4 separate regions of the Homo sapiens genome follow, and regions 1, 2 and 4 are each linked to region 3. Evidence: fine-mapped expression QTL. A gene starts in region 3. Each other region holds a variant in brackets. All regions are shown on one strand. Distances are between the middles of the regions.

Evidence for each region. PIP is the estimated chance that this variant, and not a neighbour inherited with it, causes the effect. A credible set is the group of variants that fine-mapping cannot tell apart.
Region 1: its variant is the best candidate, but not a certain one, in a credible set for the expression of ZMAT3 in CD4 T cells (CEDAR, PIP 0.57).
Region 2: its variant is the best candidate, but not a certain one, in a credible set for the expression of ZMAT3 in B cells (Fairfax 2012, PIP 0.88).
Region 4: its variant is the best candidate, but not a certain one, in a credible set for the expression of ZMAT3 in spleen (GTEx, PIP 0.85).

The regions. Positions count from the first base shown.
Region 1 is chr3:179,019,541-179,024,540 of GRCh38, forward strand. ZMAT3 (zinc finger matrin-type 3) reads right to left here. Exons shown (of 6, transcript NM_022470.4): 6 at 1-5,000. Among named protein-coding and RNA genes, the nearest start is that of ZMAT3, 50 kb to the right of the region's middle. The variant T/A (reference allele first, on the strand shown) is at 3,094.
Region 2 is chr3:179,047,447-179,052,446 of GRCh38, forward strand. The region is part of intron 2 of ZMAT3 (zinc finger matrin-type 3); the gene reads right to left. Among named protein-coding and RNA genes, the nearest start is that of ZMAT3, 22 kb to the right of the region's middle. The variant A/G (reference allele first, on the strand shown) is at 2,777.
Region 3 is chr3:179,068,904-179,073,903 of GRCh38, forward strand. ZMAT3 (zinc finger matrin-type 3) reads right to left here and starts at 2,906. Exons shown (of 6, transcript NM_022470.4): 1 at 2,692-2,906. RefSeq lists silencers at 2,633-2,782, 2,923-3,332.
Region 4 is chr3:179,033,351-179,038,350 of GRCh38, forward strand. The region is part of intron 2 of ZMAT3 (zinc finger matrin-type 3); the gene reads right to left. Among named protein-coding and RNA genes, the nearest start is that of ZMAT3, 36 kb to the right of the region's middle. The variant C/T (reference allele first, on the strand shown) is at 2,009.

The sequences.
Region 1 (5,000 bases), 49 kb before region 3:
ATACTGCAAAGTTTTTTCAACTTTGATATATGTCTGAAAATTTTCTTGAGAAAATGTTGAGGAACATGTTAACATTTCTATAATAAAATCAGTCTAGCAGGGCGTTTCTAAGATTCTAAGTAGTCAGGCAATTTAGAATTTTAAATTAATTAAACTAGGGAAAATTTTGCTTTTAATGGCTTCAAACCTGATTTGTGAAGATGCTTCATTTAATATAGAAATGAACTAACACAATTAATAATTATTGTGCCAGTCTCTTCGCTTTAGCTGCAAATACATAATTTTTCCCCTCTCTACAGAAGACAAGTTTGAAAATGACCACTAGAATAAAGAATTTTTCCAAACATCAGTGTCAAGCTCTTCCAATCAACCACACTGCCATTCACTAAGTACAAACGCAACACAGATCAAGGTGAAAAATGATCTCTGACTTCTGCCAGCTTGGGAAAACTGGATTCATTTTCAGAATGTATGGTTTCTGATCAATAATGACAATAGTTTTACTTGATATCAAATTGACATTTATTTAAAAAAGGGAAAAAAAAGACGTAGAACAGAATTCACACAGACCTTTGTTATTCCAAGCTCCTATTTATGAATGGTGATTAATAGCAATAATTCTGTCTCTCTTCTCTCTGTGAAATGCTAACACTTGCTAAAGGCACTCAGATTCTGGGCTTAACGGAGACAAGGTCACATGGGACCATAAGCCAGTACGTTTTTTGGTAGCTACCCAGAAAGGAAGTTTACAAATGTTCCTCCCATTCATAACGGGAAGAAAAAGTCAAACAGCTATCAGTAGAAGCGTTTTATGAGAAGCTATTTACACAGCTATTTGTCCATTCAGCCAGAGTGACAGTAACTGCTCACAATGGTAGGGGTTCTCCCCTGCCAAGAAAGCAAAAACAATAACAAAACACTTTTTATCATATATGAAACTCCTGTACAATGATTTGGCTAGAAGAAAAAAATAGTTGGTAAGGTCAAATTTGTTTTAAAACATCTGTTCAAAAGCCTGCATTAAACTTTTATCTGTCCTGACAAAACATGTCTCAATTTCTTTCTAAAGCAGCTCTATTGTCCTAGCATATGCCTCACCAAGTTCTTTAAAGGGCATTTCCAACCTTAGTTCTGACAATGAAGACACAAAGTAGGTTAGGTTCCAAAACCACCCTTCCTAGCCCTCCCTGTAGAAAATACCATGTTGCACAGTTACATGTGTCCCCTGACACAAACGACACTCATTTTACGTAGGTCACTGGACCTCAAACTGTTGTTGCTTGCTGTCCCAGCCAATTCAAGAGTGAAGGAAGATGTAACCAGACATACATATCTCCCTTTCTCCCTGTTCAAACTGTAGATAGGTAGCTATAAGCAAGCATATAGTTCTGTAGAAAAGCTTTCTAAAATGAGGTGGAAGATCTCGTGCTTCTTGTTAGCTTTTTAAGTCAGGGGAATGTAAGGATGATGTCAAATAGCCACGATTCTTCTTTTAAACTCAGGGCTTCAAAAATCCTACCTGGTTTTCTAAGTTTACCAACTAATTAAAAGGTCAGTGAAGAAGAGTTGGAGGAGGAACTTTTTCCAAATAAATGGTATAAAAAAATTATTCACCTTGCAGAATTTAGTGCAATAAGAGACAGGCAGACAAACATAAACAACATGCACATATTTACAAGTTGCAGGACATGATGCACAATGTGAAGACCAACAAAGTATTTTCAAAGCATCTTCAGTGCACTCAAAAGGATTACAGGGCACACTCAGTTTAGTAACTGAACTTTTTTTACAAAACCACTTCAAAGGTATATGCAATCCAATCTTTTAGTTGAAACACGAATTTTCTTTCTTTACAACTTCTTACCCTCAATACCTAAGAAGAATTCTAATTGTCATCTTCTAACGTTGATTTTTTATGACAACTTACACAAAGATATTATTCACAGAGAAAAGAGACTGATGCTATGAGTTCCTATGGATGATTACCGAAATCTAAGTATTTTTTTTTCTAATTTTTGTTGTTGTTGTGGTTTAGGCCTCTGTCCATCCTTGAAGACAGCATAGAAAAGGACACTAACATAATTCCTGGGGAGCACAAGGTGCAAATCCTAAAGTATGTTACAGAGACAGACTGAGCTTCACAAAATGAAACCAACGAAGATCACATATCACTGACTCAGAAGAAACAACAGTCTGCTTAAACAGAGAAAAAACACTGTTTATGGAATACATGAATATGAGAAATTGTACCATGCAGAGATGTATCTATTTAGGCATTTCCTGCCTGATAACCTCTGTCACCCTTTGTTTTCACCTATGGAACAGAGAAGAATACTGCAAGGTAACAAGCTCAAAACATAACCTACTGTCATAGAGATTTGTGATTTTTTTTCAGATGTGCATGTAACTTTTACAAGTGATCATGGAAGTTATTTATCAACTTCCCAGAGTTTGGAATTTAAGGAGCAAACTGAGTTATTGTAGGCAATACGGTACTAAAGTGTCCTATAAAACAAACACATAGCTCTTTTTTAGTGCAAAGAAATATAGCAAGTAAGAAATAACACTATAAATCTAACTTCTTTCTTTAAAAGAAAATGTGCTTATGCATTCATAACATCCATTAAGGGCACTGGGAAACTGGAAACCTGAATCCACAAGGCCTGAAAAAACATCAAGCCCTTAAGTCGGCTGCTTTTTCTACGTATATAATGAAATTGTTAAGTGGAGAGAGCAAGGGGAACCCTTCTTATAAAACTATTTCCAATGGAAAACAAAGTGGATGAATGACATTTTTACAAAATATAAATTCATGTTCGTATCTTCTACTGTTATTTGAAATAAGGGTTGAAATACCTCTCTATGACAACATATATGTACGTGTGTGTGTGGGGGTATGCATACACACACATCTACCTATGGAGGAAAAAAACTAGATTTTTAGGTAATCATAGAACCAAGCGGCCAGCACTATAATGTTAAAATTAACCAAAAAATTATATTTAGCAGCAAAATGAATAACCTACTGGCCAATAAGAAAAGCCCTAAATTGCTCAAAACTAAGCAACTCTACTTTATAGATTACTGAAAAAA[T/A]AATAATAATAATAATAATAAAAGGGTTATTATACTAAGAGTCACAGGTCTAGATAGAATCCTAACAGAATAGTATTTGATTCTTCTGTTTCTGGGAGAAGAAAAGTTACAAAATAATTCTACTTCTCAAAGAACCACCACTTCAAGAGAAGACAGTAACTGGATACTATACAAGGGTTAATCACACAAAACTCGTTTTTAAACATGGGTCTGAGTTGTTTAAAAATTGTCCCAAAGTATTACAGAAGAAGAATGATTGTAATTTGCCTTCCCCAATTTTTTTTGCCTACAGAATTATCAAGAAAAAATAGAAGTTTTACCTCTAATTAGTAATACAAGCAATCAAATGTGAACTGACCATTGTGCAAACATACTGCTTAAAATATAAACTTCCTGATCAAGTGGGCTTTCAAAAGAAATACGGATGACCACTGGTCTTACCCATATAAAATATAGTAAATAGATAAAATGTAGTTAATGAATATTCACAGAGCACTCCATTAGTTAATCTAGATATATATTATAGCTTCTTTTTTTTTTTTTTTGGAGACGGAGTATTGCTCTGTCGCCCAGACTGGAGTGCAGTGGCACGATTCTTGGCTGACTGCAACCTCCACCTCCTGGGTTCATACAACTTCTTATTTTAAACGCAAAAAAACAAAAATAATAATACTGATATAATTATCAGATGCCAAAGTGATCTATCATATACTTGTTAGTATCTTCAAGAAAGCCGAATTACAAAGAATAAAACCATAGTTCGTGTATATTTCTACTGGAAACGAAGATAGTGAAACTTTATTTGCTTTTTAAAAAATTCCTCTGTGTATAAAACAGCAGGTGGTGATATTTTTCAGGATGGCCACCAGACTGGCAAGACAGAGGAAAATGTAAGTAAACCGTAAGAATCAGATTATCAAAAAAGTCTGGCAAAACAAAATATCAAGCAATCTGAACTTATGGTTTAGATCATGATATAAGCGCATGTTACTATCAATGAAGTAACTCTAAATTGGAAAATCAAACACACCTTTGTTTCCTAAAAACTGCTGGAAAATATATCTATATATATATATATTTTTTTTTTTTTTTTTTTTTTTTTTTTGAGACGGAGTCTCGCTCTGTCACCCAGGCTGGAGTGCAGTGGCGCGATCTCGGCTCACTGCAAGCTCCGCCTCCCGGGTTCACGCCATTCTCCTGCCTCAGCCTCCAGAGTAGCTGGGACTACAGGCACCCACCACCACGCCCGGCTAATGTTTTGTATTTTTAGTAGAGATGGGGTTTCACTGTGTTAGCCAGGATGATCTCGACCTCCTGACCTCGTGATCCGCCTGCTTCGGCCTCCCAAAGTGCTGGGATTACAGGCGTGAGCCACCGCGCCCGGCCCTATTTTTTGAAATCATATCCATCTTAAACTCATTGAATATTCAAATATGAGGCTTGGAAAACCCACAGCACAGCTGGGGCATGAAAATGGGCTTGTTAGACAAGCTGATTCAACTAGGGGGGAAAAAAGAGGAGGGAAGAAGGCGGCAATTATATGTGTGAAATCCACAACTGGAAATCAAGTTTAGCTGTTTGGAAGTATACAAGCTCATTGGGAGTATTTGAATTCAAGAAAATTTGCGCTTCAATGATGGGGAGACATGATACAGAAAAAAAAATGTCCTGGGAAAGACCCTAACAGTTTCTAATAATGTATCCTACTGACAATGCATTGAGGTGGCGGTTCTGGTTAAGCCCTGGGAAACTGAAATCTCTGCTGACCTATTTTTACTTTGATCTAAAAAGAATTCAATACAATTCTTTAACAGTACATAAAACTACAATTGCAAAAGAAAATGGCAGAAAAAAATGTCCCGGGAAAGACCTTAACAGTTTCTAATAATGTATTCTACTGACAATGC
Region 2 (5,000 bases), 21 kb before region 3:
TTCTTTAACACCCCCAAAAGATCACCTTAGCTCACCAGCAGTGGATCCAAACCAAGGTGAAATATCTGAATTGCCAGAAAAAGAATTCAGAAGGTCAACTACTAATCCAATCAAGGAGGCACCAGGCCGAGCGTGGTGGCTCACGCCTGTAATCCCAGCACTTTGGGAGGCTGAGGCAGGCAGATCACCTGAGGTCAGGAGTTCAAGACCAGCCTGACCAACATGGTGAAACCCAATCTCTACTAAAAATACAAAAAAAAAAAATAGCCGGATGTGGTGGTGCTCGCCTATAGTCTCAGCTACTCAGGAGGCTGAAGCAGGAGAATCACTTCAGTCCGGGAGGCAAAGGTTGCAGTGAGCTGAGATCATGTGACTGCACTCCAGCCTGGGTGACAGAGTAAGACTCAGTCTCAAAAAAAAAAGGAGGCACCAGAGAAAGGTGAAGTCCAACTTAAATAAATCAAAAAATAATACAGGTATGAATGGAAAATGTTCAGTGAAATAGATAGCATAAATAAAAAACAATCACAACTTCTGGAAATGAAGGACACGCTCAGAGAAATGCAAAATGCACTGAAAAGTCTCAGCAATAGAGTCGGACAAGTAGAAGAACTTCAGAGCTCAAATATAAGGCTTTTGAATTAACCCAAATTGATAAAGACAAAGAAAAAAGAATTTTTAAAAAATGAACAAAGCCTCGAAGAAGTTTGAGATTACGATAAACGACCAAACCTAAGAATAATTGCTGTTCCTGAGGAAGAAGAGAAATCTAAAAGTTTGCAAAACATATTTGAGGGAATAATTGAGGAAAACTTCCTCAGCCTTGCTAGAGATCTAGACATCCGAATACAAGAAGCTCAAAGAACACCTAGGAAATTCATTGCAAAAAGATCATCGCCTAGGCATACAGTCATCAGGTTACCTAAAGTCAAGATGAAAGAAAGAATCTTAAGAGCTGTGAGGCAAAAGCATCAGGTAACCTATAAAGGAAAACCTATCAGATTAACAGCAGATGTCTCAGCCGAAACCCTACAAGCTAGAAGGGACTGGGGTCCTATCTTTAGCCTTCTTAAACAAAACAATTATCAGCCAAGAACTTTGTATCCAGTGAAACTAAGCTGCATAAATGAAGGAAAGATACTGTCTTTGTCAGACAAAAAACTTCTGAGAGAATTTGCCACTACCAAGCCAGCATTACAAGAACTACTAAAAGGAGTTCTAAATCTTGAAACAAATCCTCCAAATACACAAAAATAGGAAATCCTTAAAGCATAAATCTCACAGGACCTATAAAATAACACAATGGAAAAAAACCCAAGGTATTCAGGCAAAAAAAAAAAAAAAACAGCACAATGAACAAAATAGTACTTCACATGTCAATATTAACATTGAATGCAAATTGCCTAAATTCTCCACTTAAAATATTCCAAATGGCAAAACGGATAAGAATTCACCAACCAAGTATCTGCTATCTTCAAGAGACTCGTGATACATAAGGACTCACATAAACTTAAGGTAACAGGGTGAAAAAAGATATTCTATGCAAATGGACAACAAAAGTGAGCAGGAGTAGCTATTCTTATTTGAGACAAAATAAACTTCAAAGCAACAGCAGTTAAAAAAGACAAAGAGGGACATAATACAATAATAAAAGGACTAGTCCAAAAGGAAAACATCACAATCCTAAATATATATGCACCTAATACTGGAGCTTCCAAACTTATAAAACAATTACTACTAGACCTAACAAATGAGATAGACAGCAATACAATAATTGTGGGGGACTTCAATACTCCACTGACAGCACTAGACAGGTCTTTAAGACAGAAAGTCAACAAAGAAACAATAAACTATACGTTACAATAAATGCACTTCACAGATATTTACAGAGGATCCTACCCAACAACTGCAGAATATACATTCTATTCATCAGCACATGGAACATTCTTCAAGGTAGACCATATGATAGCCACAAAACAAGTCTCAACAAATTTAAGAAAATCGAACTTATAGCAAGTACTTTCTCAGACCACAGTGGAATAAAATTGGAAATCAACTCCAAAAGAAACCCTCAAAACCATGCGAATACATGGAAATTAAATAACCTGCTCCTGAATGATTGTTGGGTCAACAATAAAATCAAGATGGAAATTAAAAAATTATTTGAACTGAACGATAATAGTGATACAACCTATGAAAACCTCTGTGATACAGCAAAGGCAGTGCTAATAGCATTAACTGCCTACATCAAAAAGTTTGAAAGGGGCTGGGCATGGTTGCTCATGCCTGTAATCCCAGCACTTTGGGAGGCCAAGGCAGGCGGATCACGAGGTCAAGAGATCAAGACCATCCTGGCTAACATGGTGAAACCACGTCTCTACTAAAAATACAAAAAATTAGCTGGGCGTGGTGGTGGGCGCCTGTAGTCTCAGCTACTCGGGAGGCTGAGGCAGGAGAATGGCATGAACCTGGGAGGCAGAGCTGGCAGTAAGACAAGATCGCGCCACTGCACTCTAGTCTGGGTGACAGAGCAAGACTCCGTCTCAAAAAAAAAAAAAAAAAAAAAAAAAAGCCAAGCCTAAAAGAACACAAATAGACAATGTAAGGTCACACCTCACAGAACTGGAGAAACAAAACAATCCAAACCCAAACCCAGCAGAAGAAAAGAAATAGTCAAGATCAGAACAGAACTAAATGAAATTGAAACAAAAAAAATACAAAAGATTAAGTGAAACAAAAGGTTGGTTTTTTGACAAGATAAATAAAACTAATAAAC[A/G]ATTATTGAGGTTAGCCAAGAAAATAAGAGAGAAAATCCAAATAAGCTCAATTAGAAATGAAATGGGAGATATTACAACAAATACCACAGAAATACAAAAAATCATTCAAGGCTATTATGAACACCTTTATGTGCATAAACTAGAAAACCTAAAGGAGATGGGTAGAAATATACAACCCTCCTAGATTAAACCAAGAATACATAGAAACTGAACAGACCAATAACAAGCAGCAAGATTGCAATGGTAATTAAAAAGTTACCAACAAAAAAAAAAGTCCAAGACCAGAAAGATGCACAGCTGAATTCTATCAGACATTCAAAGAAGAACTGGTACCAATCCTACTGACACTACTCCAAAAGACAAAGAAATAGGGAATCCTCCCGAAATCATTCTATGAAGTCCATATCACCCTAACACCAAAACCAGGAAAGGATATTCCAAATAAAAGAAAACTACAGACCAATATCCCTGATGAACACAGATGCAAAAATCCTCAACAAAATACTAGCTAAGCAAATCCAACAGCATATCAAAAAGATAATCCACCATGATCAAGTGGGTTTCACACCAGGGATTTAGGGATGGTTTTACATCTAGGGATGGTTTAACATCCTCAAGTCAATAAATGTGATACACTACATAAAAGAATTAAAAACAAAAATCATATGATCACCTCAATAGACACAGAAAAAGCATTTGACAAAATCTAGCATCCCTTTATGGTTAAAACCCTCAGCAAAATCAGCATAGAAGAAACACACCTTAAGGTAATAAAAGCCATCTATGACAAACCCACAGCCAACATTATACTGAATGCGGAAAAGTTGAAAGCATTCCCCCTGAGAACTGGAGCAAGACAAGGATGCCCACTTTCACCACTTCTATTCACCCTAGTACTGGAAGTCCTAGCCAGAGCAATCAGACAAGAGAAAGAAATAAAGGGCATCCAAATCAATAAAGAGGAAGTCAAACTGTCACTGTTTGCTAATGAAAATGATTGTGTATCTAGAAAACCCTAAAGACTTATCCAAAAAGCTTCTGGTACTGGTAAATGAATTCAGCAAAGTTTTAGGATACAAAATTAATATATACAAATCAGTAGCTCTGCTATACACCACTATACACCAACAGCTACCAAGCAGAGAATCAAATCAAGAACTCAGCCCCTTTTACAATACCTACAAAAAAAATAAAATAAAATACATAGGAATATACTTAACCAAAGAGCTGAAAGACCTCTACAAAGAAAAGTACAAAACACTGCTGAAAGAAATAACAGATGACACAAACAAATGGAAACACAAACCATGCTCATGATGGGTAGAATCAGTGTTGTGAAAATGACCACACTGCAAAAAGCAATCCACAAATTCAATGCAATTCCCATCAAAATACCATCATCAAATTCAATGCAATTCTCATCAAAATACCATCATCATTCTTCACAGAACTAGAAAAAAATTTATATGGAACCAAAAAAGAGCCTGCATAGCCAAAGCAAGACTAAGCAAAAAGAACAAATCTAGAGGTCTTACATTACCTGACTTCAAACTATAGCATACGGCTACAGTCACCAAAACAGCATGGTACTGGTATAAAAACAGGCATTTAGACCAATAAAACAGAATAGAGAACCCAGAAATAAAGCCAAATACTTACGGTCAACTGATCTTCAACAAAACAAACAAAAACATAAAGTGGGGAAAGGACACTCTATTGAACAAATGGTGCTGAGATAATTGGCAAGTCGCACGTAGAATAACGAAACTGGATCCTCATCTCTCACCTTATACAAAAATCAACTAGAGATGGATCAAAGACTTAAATCTAAAACCTGAAACCATAAAAATTCTAGAACATTGGAAAAACTCTTCTAGACATTGACTTAAGCAAAGACTTCAACAAGATAAAGATAAATAGATGAGATTTAATTAAACTAAAAAGCTTCTGCACAGCAAAAGAAATAATCAGCAGAGTAAACAGACAACCCATAGAGTAGGAGAAAATTTTTGCAATCTACACATCCAACAAAGAACTAATATCCAGTCTACAAGGAATTCAAACAAATCAGCAACAAAAAACAAACAATACCATCAAAAAGTGGCCTAAGGCCATGAATAGACAATTCTCAAAAGAAGATATACAAATGGGCAATAAACATATGAAAAAAATGCTCAACATCACTAATTATCAGAGAAATGTAAATCGAAACTACAACATGAT
Region 3 (5,000 bases):
ATTCCTATATGGGACGCAATTAGCTAGTTAGTGCTCAGAGGCACTGTGCCCTCTAGCGAGGCCTGCCTTCTCTGGGACACCTCAGTCCCCACTCAGCTGCTGCCTGTACTTGTTACTTGCCTGTTCTCTGTGAGCTCTTGAGTTTACAGCCCTGCCTCATACAGCCTTAGATTATATTCATCAGCCCCTGTAAAACCCAAATTTTTCCTCCTTCTCTAGGTAAATTACCTACACAAAATAAGGTATCAAGGAAATGTCCAATGGAGTAATGGATCACACCACCATAAGCCACAGTATAATTCCAGTTCCTCAATCTTGAGGCTATTTCCCTCCTCCTTCTTAACAAATAACTGATAGTCTCTATTATAATTCCCTCAGAAAAGACCCAAAATGTTCCTCTCCCTCTTCAATCTTTATCCATAATGTCTCCTGCCTCCCCCCCAGATGGCGCCGTCTAACCCTGAGTGTCTCAAAATGAACCACAGTACACCCTTTGAGTTCCCAAGATTCTAATTAACCCAAATTAGAATCCTTATTTCAAAATCCACAATTCCCTCCACTCTCTCAATACAGTATTATTAAAACCTCTTCTCTTGGTCAATAGAATATGGCTATTTTAAGCTGCTGAAATTTTCCATCTGCAATGGAAATGTGTACATTATGGCAATAATAGAATTACTAAAATGAATCAAGTAAATTTTGAAAAGTTAAAGTCTATTTTACCATATTTGATAACTACACAGCACCTGAAAATCAAGTAACAACTTTCAGACGAAATTTGGGGTGGGGAGGCAACAAAGGAAATCAGCGTGATGGGAAAATAATGTAGTTAAGGACAAAGTGCATAAGTATTAGTCATAGAATTTAACAATACTTCTCATTAATCACAAAATTTAGAAAAATGATAATATTATTTAATTTTTAAGCAGAAGTGTACTGCCCATATCTCTGGGAACATAAAAGAAAAGCAATATAGAGTTTTAACATTTAAAAAGTCAGGTTCTCTGTAATGGTATTATTTCTCTTAATTGAATCAAGCAAAGATAGTCCAGAAAGCAAAGACAGATATGGTCATTTTAGAAAACGGAACTAAGTAGACAAAGAACAGCTTTTAAAAAGTTTAACTACCTAATAATAATAATTCATAATGTTGAAAAGCTACTGATGTCAAATTGCCACAAACATTCTGCTAGTTCATTAGTGAAAAGGTGGGGGGGGGTGTCAAAACCTCTGGATAAAGGAAATCAGCAATATAAACAGAAAATCAAATGCTACCAATTGCCTAGGCATGTCTGGACTTGTTTTATGAAAGCTCACTTTCACTTGAGGAAATTCTAGCATGTGTCTCCCCCAGTGTTATCTACAGGTTTCCCTCAAAATAAAGATCCTTCTCAAAGAACAGAGGCACAAAAGGCCTCCTACCAGAGGTGACAGTTACCTGATTTAAAGAAAAAATTCTTGCCAAACACAGATTTACCCATTATCACATTTGATCTTTACAATTTTTAAAGAGTAGCTTGATATCCCAAATTTATTTCTTGTTATATTTAACAATCAACACAATGTCGACTCCTCAAAAAAATCTATGTATGACAATTGCATCAAATATTAGTACATTTGCAAACAAAAATTAGTATAAAATATAAATCTTAAAATGAATAAAACCAAGTCTTCAGTGAATGCATGAATGATGGAATACAGAGACCCAAAACATGCAACTCAGATCTGTTCAACTGTTGCATTGGTTTAAAAGGGACTAATTTGAAGACTGGCATAAATATTCTTCAAATCTTAAAAACCAGTCACTTTGATGCTTGCGATGGCATAAATGAAGGATTTATGCTGGTTAATGTCCTGGTTTGGAAAGGAGCTAAGACGACATTAAAGAAAATCAAAGCTTCACAAGGTACCCTGTTTAAAGAAAATTAATTGTCATAGCATACTTAGTTTTAATGATTGGACTGGGGCCTACTCTTCACATACTGTGTTAAAGACAATCTCTTGTCTCATTTGGAGAAATCTACAGAGGAAAGAGAATAGAATAAAGGAACAGGTTAGGAGCACCTCAGCAAACTAGGTAAGTCTGTAATTGGGAATTCTGGAAATGAGGGAAAGGCAGCGAGCATTACTCAGAGGTCATCAGAACGCAGCAAGAAGGAATGAGAGGGAGAAAAGTTAAAAAAAATAATAATAATAATCACTTGAGGCAAGGTGTATCCTATAAAGAAGGCTCAAAAGAACGCAGAAAACTGGGGAAGAGGCCTTGGTGAATTGGCGAATGTTTTTCAGTCTCCGCTGTGACGGTTCCTAATCCTAGAGAACTGTTTACAGATTTGAATCAAAGCTACAGACAGTTCAGCGTCGCCCACATCCACCTTACATTCCTAAGATGTGCATGCATACACACGAACCCACACACGCACCTCAACCCGGTATGGATGCCATCACGAAGGATGGAATCCCCCGACTCCCACGGGGCGGGGGCAACTGAGAGGGCCAAGGCAGCTGCACGCACAGATGATCCACCTGGTCCACGTGAAATGCCTGAAACAAGCAAACTGATAAATAGAAGCAGCGCAAGCCCTGTCACGTGGAGGGCAGATGGAAAGAGCATCGGAAAGGAACCGCTAGTCCCCGGCGCTCCAGGGGCTCGTCCTGAAAGCTCCGCGGCTCCCAATCGCCCGCACTTACCGGAACCCCCGGGACGCGCCGGCAGTCTCCGCGCCGCGTCCGCCCGGGACGCCCGCGACGCCCGCCCTGCGCGCCCGGCTCGGCCCAGCTCGACCCAGCCTCTTCTCGGAGCAACTTTCTCCGCCGGCCGCCGCCGAGCCCCCTCCGCAGCCGAAGGCTGACTGTCAAAAGTCAGTCCAACCCGACCCACAGGGAAACAGCTGCAGGAAGTGACTGCGGAACCGGGAGGCGGTGGAGGAGGAGACTGAGGGCGCCGGCTCGGCGTCGCCACTGCGCATGTGCTTGGCGGAGCAGGCCCGGCAGCGGTGGCAGCGGTAGCAGTGGCGGCTCCCGCATCCCCGGCGGGCGGCGCGTGGGTCAGGTGCCCTGGCCGCGAGCGCAGGGGCGCGGGGTTAGGCCGGCGTGGGGAACAAAGGCACGAGTGAGAGGCGGGAGGGTCCCGCCGCCAATCTCAGCAGACAGCCCCGAAGAGCAGTTCAGCAGATGCCCTGGAAAGTTAATCCTTGGTAGAAGCCTGGGCAGAGCTTTTGCAACTTTCATCTCCAGTCATTGGGATCCAAACATTGTTCATTCTGTTCCTCCCTTAGCCTGCTGGTTGGCGGTTAAGGCGGCTGAGTGGATCCTTTAAACTGCTGCAACAGAACCTTTAAACTGCTGCTCTCCCCACTTCCGCCCCAGGATGGAGGAAGAAGAGCGTGGCTGCCTGCCCAGTATCGGCCTCCCTCACACAAAACGCCCCCACCCACCCACACACACACCTTCCCTCCCCTACACGAAAGTGAGCAGGAGATAGAGGAGACTTTCTCCTGACCCCCAGAGGCTCACCTGCAAGACAGGAAGGACCAGGAAAAGAGTGGCCAACGCTAGGATGTCACATCCTTCATAACCAACCTGGACATCTTCAATGTTAACACTGAGTGATGAGCTGAGGAAATTCCGGCTCTAAACTTATAGCGTAAATTAACTCGTATGAAGATCTGCTGGGGTATTATTTTTGTGTGTGGCAAACGATAACAAATATACTACTTTAAGAGTACAGGCCGGGCGCGGTGGCTCACGCCTGTAATCCCAACACTTTGGGAGGCCGAGGCGGGTGGATCACGGGGTCAGGAGATCGAGACCATCCTGGCTAACACGGTGAAACCCAATCTCTACTAAAAATACAAAAATATTAGCCAGGCGTGGTGGTGGGCGCCTGTAGTCCCAGCTACTCGGGAGGCTGAGGCAGGAGAATGGCGTGAACCCGGGAGGCGGAGCTTGCAGTGAGCCGAGATCGCGCCGCTGCACTCCAGCCTGGGTGACAGAGCGAGACTCCGTCTCAAAAAAAAAAAAAAAAAAAGTACAGTTCAGTGGCATTAAGTACATTTGCATTATTGTGTGGTTATTTTTTAAAACACGAATTAAAATGCCAAGGAGATCTAAGTATAGTAAGATGTGCCCTATTAGTAGGGAAACAACTGCAGGAAATCAAGGCTGTTTCTTTGGCTGAAAAATGCACCAATCCAATACCAACAACAACAAACCATAAAAGACTTCATAAGTACAATGAATATGAAGTACAAACATATACACACAGTGTACACCAGCCATTTGGGGAGAGTAATCCATCACCTGAATTGTTTTTCCAGCTGTATAGGTACATTTACTTTATGTGTCACTATTTTAAAGGGCTATATTGTTTCTAAAATAATAAATGCTGCTAAAATCCACTCTCCAGCCCCTTTTCTATATGGTCTTTAGCCAGTCTTAGAACTTCACAGTCCACACTCCTTATCTAGGACCACAAGTAGGCCTTGCGGAGCCTTTCCGATCTGACCTTCCACCAGTCTCCCCTCATCATTTCACTCACACCCCCATCCATGCCCCTTCATTTCCTGCCTCTGTAATTTAGCTCTGTCTGCATCTTGAATACAAAATGCTTTCTCTCCCCTCCCCTTGAATTGTCAAATCCTACCTGTCCTTCCAGGCCTCTTCTTTCATGAGGTCCCACAGCACTTTTCTCCGCACACCTTGATGACACACTATTTGTTGTCCCACATTATAATTACTTAAGAGATATTTCCTCTGCCCTGTAAATACCTTGAGTCCAGGAAGGATAAATGTCTTGGAGTTTTCAAGTTTTATGTTTGATAGTTTGATGTGTTCTTGTCCATCAGGATGAAAATCTGAACAATTCCATGTTCTCTGCTCACATACTCTTCTCAGACAGCTAGGGCATTTCCTTCCCTGCCTCGGGGAGAAAGAAAAGGCAAATCTGATGCTTGTGTAATAGATATTTGAAGCTCATGGCAGTGACAGTAGTCTCATAA
Region 4 (5,000 bases), 36 kb before region 3:
AAGGCGGAAGGCGGCAGGGCCCTCTGCCTAGGAAAACCAGAGACCTCTGTTCACGTGTTTATCTGCTGACCTTCCCTCCACTATTGTCCTATGACCCTGCCAAATCCCCCTCTCCGAGAAACACCCAAGAATGATCAATAAATACTAAAAAAATTTTAAAAAAAAGGAAAGAAAGAAAAGAAAAGAAAAGAATATGGGATTTTAGGAAAAAAAAAAAAGAAGTATCACATTTTCCAGTGACTTATGTCCTCACCCAACTTCTTGCCATTTATATGCCACAGATAAATATGAATTTCATGACACTCTGATCTAATGTACTTTATAAGTTAGTAATGAAATGGATAATCCAATTATTCTTTTAAAATTGCCCTTACAGAGTATCTTTTTACTTACAAAGGATGTTCATTGCATTTATTCATTTGCTGCTCACAAAAATCTTGTAAGAGGAATTTGTTAATATTGTCCATTTATGACAGCCAAGGAACTGCAATCCAGAGACTGTAAGGAGCTTGCCCCCAGCTCCCTTCTCAAGGGCTAAATAGCACAGCCAAAGCCTGAGACAGGCCTTCCAAATCAAAGAATGGCCCTTTTCCACTACAGCATGATGGCTTCAAGATGCACTAGGAACCTCTACTAACATCAACTTGCCTTTCTCATCACGTTTTATTAGTCACATGATTATATTCCTTGAACTGACACAAACTAGTGGCAAGGGTCAATAGTACAAAAGCATTCTAAATAAGGGTAAAACAGTATATTATTCTTTAAACTGCATTGTAAAACTCAAACCTGCAGGCAAACATTTATTCACCATCTATTTATATGCTAAGCCCTAGAAATAAACTAAGGACTAGCACATAGAGGAGGAGACAGATACCTAAGCAGCTAAATAGAGTAATGAACTAAGATCCATCTTCTCCTCACTTCAATACCCTAAAGGTGCTTTTACCATGGTCACAGTGAACTCCAGAGTCAAATCCAGTGGTCACATATGTGCCTTCATCTTACTGGAACTCAAAGTAGCATGACACAGTTCATTTCCTTCTTGAAACATTCCTCCTACTATCATCTATACTCCTTCTTCCCTCCCCACCTCTCCTCCTCTATCAGACCTCTAAACTCTACAATGTCCAAGGACGCACCCTTAGCCCTCTTTTATTCTCTGACTCTAGGTTATTCTACCCAGACCTATAGCTTTCAAATACCATGAGTAAGTTGGTGACTCCCCAAATCATCAATCTCCATCTTTGACCTTCAGAACCACATATCCAGCTTCCTCCTGGTCATCCATACTTTCACGTCTTAAGAGGCATATCCAACTTAAAACAACTTTTGATTCCTCCTCCATAGAACTTTCTCATCACCACCATCACCACCACCACTAGTCATCCACAGTAGGTAAATGGCACCACCATCCACAAAATTACCCAAGAAAAGCCAAGGGGTCCTTTTCCTGATTCCATCCTTCCCTAAGCCCAACACATTCAACCCATCAGCAAGTCTTGTCATTCAAAATACATCCCACATCACTCCACTTCTCTCCATGGATACTACAAATACCACAGTAATCCAAGGTACCAACATTTTTCATTTGCAGTAGGTAACAGTGGTCATTTGCAGTAGGTAACAACTCCTAATTGGTCTCTGCTGTTAATCTTGTCCTCCTAGAATTCTCCTCATTATAAACCCAAGTAATAATTCTTGACATGAATCAGTTCCATGTCACTCCCTCACATAAAACTCTTCCAATGGCTTTCTGCTATACTTAAAATTGACAAATCTTACCTATAAGGCCCTACACGATCTGGCCCTGTCTAACTGACAAATCTCACCTATAAGGCCCTACATGTTCTGGCCCCATCTAATTGACAAATCTTACCTATAAGGCCCTACATGATCTGGCCCCGTCTATCTCTTGGGCCTTATGTCAGACAGCACTCCTTCCTTTCCCCTGCTCATTATGCTCCTGGCTCACTAGGCTGCATGTGCTCCTTAAACATGCCAAGCT[C/T]AGGCTAGCTCCAAGGCCTTTGTACTTAACTGTTCCTTTTGCCTAGAATGTACCTCTTGCAGATCTCTGTATGGATTGCTCCTTCTAATCTTTCAAGTCTCAACTCAAACTGGACCTCACTCACTCTCAAGTGTCACAACCACTCCCCCTCTCCACACCACACACACTCCATCATATTACCACACTGGCCGGTTTTATTTTATCTTAGTATCACTAATCACTATCTAAAATAATATAGTTTGTTGACTTGTTTTTTTTTCTCTTTCCTCCGCTCTGTAATGTAGACTTCTTGAAAATGAGGACCTCATCTGTCTTGTTTACTGTTCTAATCCCAATGCCTAGAATAGTTTCCAGAATATAGCAAGCAAGCAATAAATAACTGTTGGATAAATGAACCAAGTATTATAATGAAGATAATAAACTGCTAGGAGAACACAGAGAAGGAATTTCTTACTCCTGCCTGAATGTATCACGGAAGACTTCCCTGAAAAGGGGGCAACTGACTCATCTTTTTAAATGAGCAAATGTTTACAGGGGAGGTAAGCAATACGGAAAAAGAAAACTGTGCACCAAGAAAATAGCATGAGCAAAAGCCCAGCCTTCTGTGTTGAGGGGCTACAAGGAGAGATAACGGTCTTCTAGATCCTTTGGAGGAGAGGCAAAAATTGAAATACACAGGGGGCTCATTCTTAATGCCTTTGCCCATGATAAAGAACTTGGACTTCAGAGGCAGCAGGGAGCCTCTGAGGAACTTTAAGCAAAGCAGTGCATGACTTGATTGTATTTGATAAAGATGAGCATCAGGGTAGCAGACCAAAGCTGGAAGCTGGGAAGATACACAGAGGAGAGTCAAGGACAAAATCCTAGACACTACAACATAGAGTCTAGTAGAGAATGAAGATCCAGAAAATGAGATTGACAAGGTCTAGCCAAAAAGTAAGATAAAAATCAGATAGTATGTTATCATAGAAGCCCACAACCAAACTGGAGTTCAAGAGTGTGGTCAGGATGAAGACAGACTCTCAGGAATGATCTGAATGTGGATGGTATTTAAAGCTATGGAGCCAAAAACTATCACCTAGACAGAGTGGAGACAGATAACAGCTTGCAAAATGGGCCTCAAGCAAGATAATGGCTAGATAAAGGAGAAAGACGCAGGAACTATGAAGAAGGTAAGAACAAGTAATAGCATATTGGATAAGAGGGTAGAAGGGAGGTGAACCGCAGGGTAGATGGAAATATTTATGAAAAATTTTTAAAGGTGTGGGGAGGAAAAAAGGCTTTGGGGAAGAAGATAGAGTCAACAATCTCAATCTCAATATGAGATTGAGACAACCGAAAGACATCTTAATGAATCCAAGAGACAGTGCAATGTGTGGCTTAGTGACAGCAACTGGAGACAGACAAATTCCTAGGCAGACAGGGATGGGTCCCTGTGAAACCCAACCTCATGCCAAAGACAGTTTAAAGACTGAAAACTGAGCTGCCAGTTGCAGGTGGAGTCCACAACGAGAGTGAGAACTTCCTCGATGCCTTTTAGGCAATCAAATGGTGCTTTTTCCAAGCCGACCCGTGAACCAATCAGCACGCACTCCCCCATTCTGAGCCCATAAAAATCCCAGACTCAACCCCACAGATGGCAAACCTCTTTTGGGTCCCCTCTCACACACAGGGCTAATCACTCTTGGGCCCCCTCTCTGCTGAGAGCTTTCCTTCTATTGCTCAATGAAATTCTTCTCCACCCTATTCACTCTCCAGTGTCCATGTACCTTATTCCTCTTATTCCTCTTGGTCGCAGGAGAAGAACCCAGAATAGGCCAACCTGTAACACACACCCATTCACTGAGCTGCGGGTGGTGGGACCGACTGAGCTGTAACATGCCCCTGTTCGCCAAGCTGCAGGTGGCAGGAACAATACAAAGCTGCAACATTTCTTGGGAGGTCAAATCTTGGGACTCCCCGGATGAGAGCTGTAACACCCCTTGGGACTCTGCCATTACTGACATCTCTGAGTTTTCGGGCACCACCCACATTCCCCTCATCTAGACAACGACACCCAATGCAGAAGCTGCTGGCAACACACCCAGTGGAGCCATGGGCTGAGTGCAGATCCCTCAGCGGGCGCAGGATCCAGGCCAAGGCACAAGCCGAGCACAGCCTGCCAGGCTGAGTGGGCGGAGTGAGCTCGGTGGAATGAGGCCCCAGGCAGAGGACACAGCACCCACAGAGATTTCCGGCTGGTGAAGCAGCACCAAAGGAATCCTTACACTGCAACCCTCCCTCCTGCTCACTGAGCAACGGGGAAAAAAAGCCAGTGTGCCATTTCCTCCCGCTTGCTGAACTACAAAAGCTGCAACATTAGCACTAAGGAAGTCAAGGCTAAGAAGGTTTAGAAGTCTTCTAAAAACAGGTGAGAATTTGAATCTACAACTCTGGCGGAAGATAACAGGGTTAAATAGTTACTGACTACCCTCTATGTTCTGGCAACCATTCTAAGAAAAGGAGATAAAACAGTGAACAAAGGCAAAGTCTCTGCCCTCAAGAAGCTTTTCTAGGGGACATAAACAGAATATATACATGTACATATATATATGTACACACACACAACCAAAGAAAAAAGAGTTACTGACAACTGCTCTGCAAAAAATAAAACAGGATGATATAATAGATAATGGACAGGGAGAGAGTGGGGTGGGCCGACAAGGCTTTTCTGGGGAGATACATGTCAGCTAAAAGCTGAAGCATGAGATGGCTCCAGCCATGCAATGTAGAGAAAGGGGGAAGAGCTGGGCATCAAGAGACCCACTTGCTGTGTTAAGTCTGAGATCCCTTTCAGATGTCCAAAGAGAGACCAACCTGGAGTTTACGAACGAGGTCAGGTTAGAGATAGAATCTGAGGAGTTATCAGTATGTAGGTGGAATTTAAAACCATGGAACTAGGGCCAGGCACAGTGGCTCATGCCTATAATCCCAGCACTTTGGGAGGCTGAGG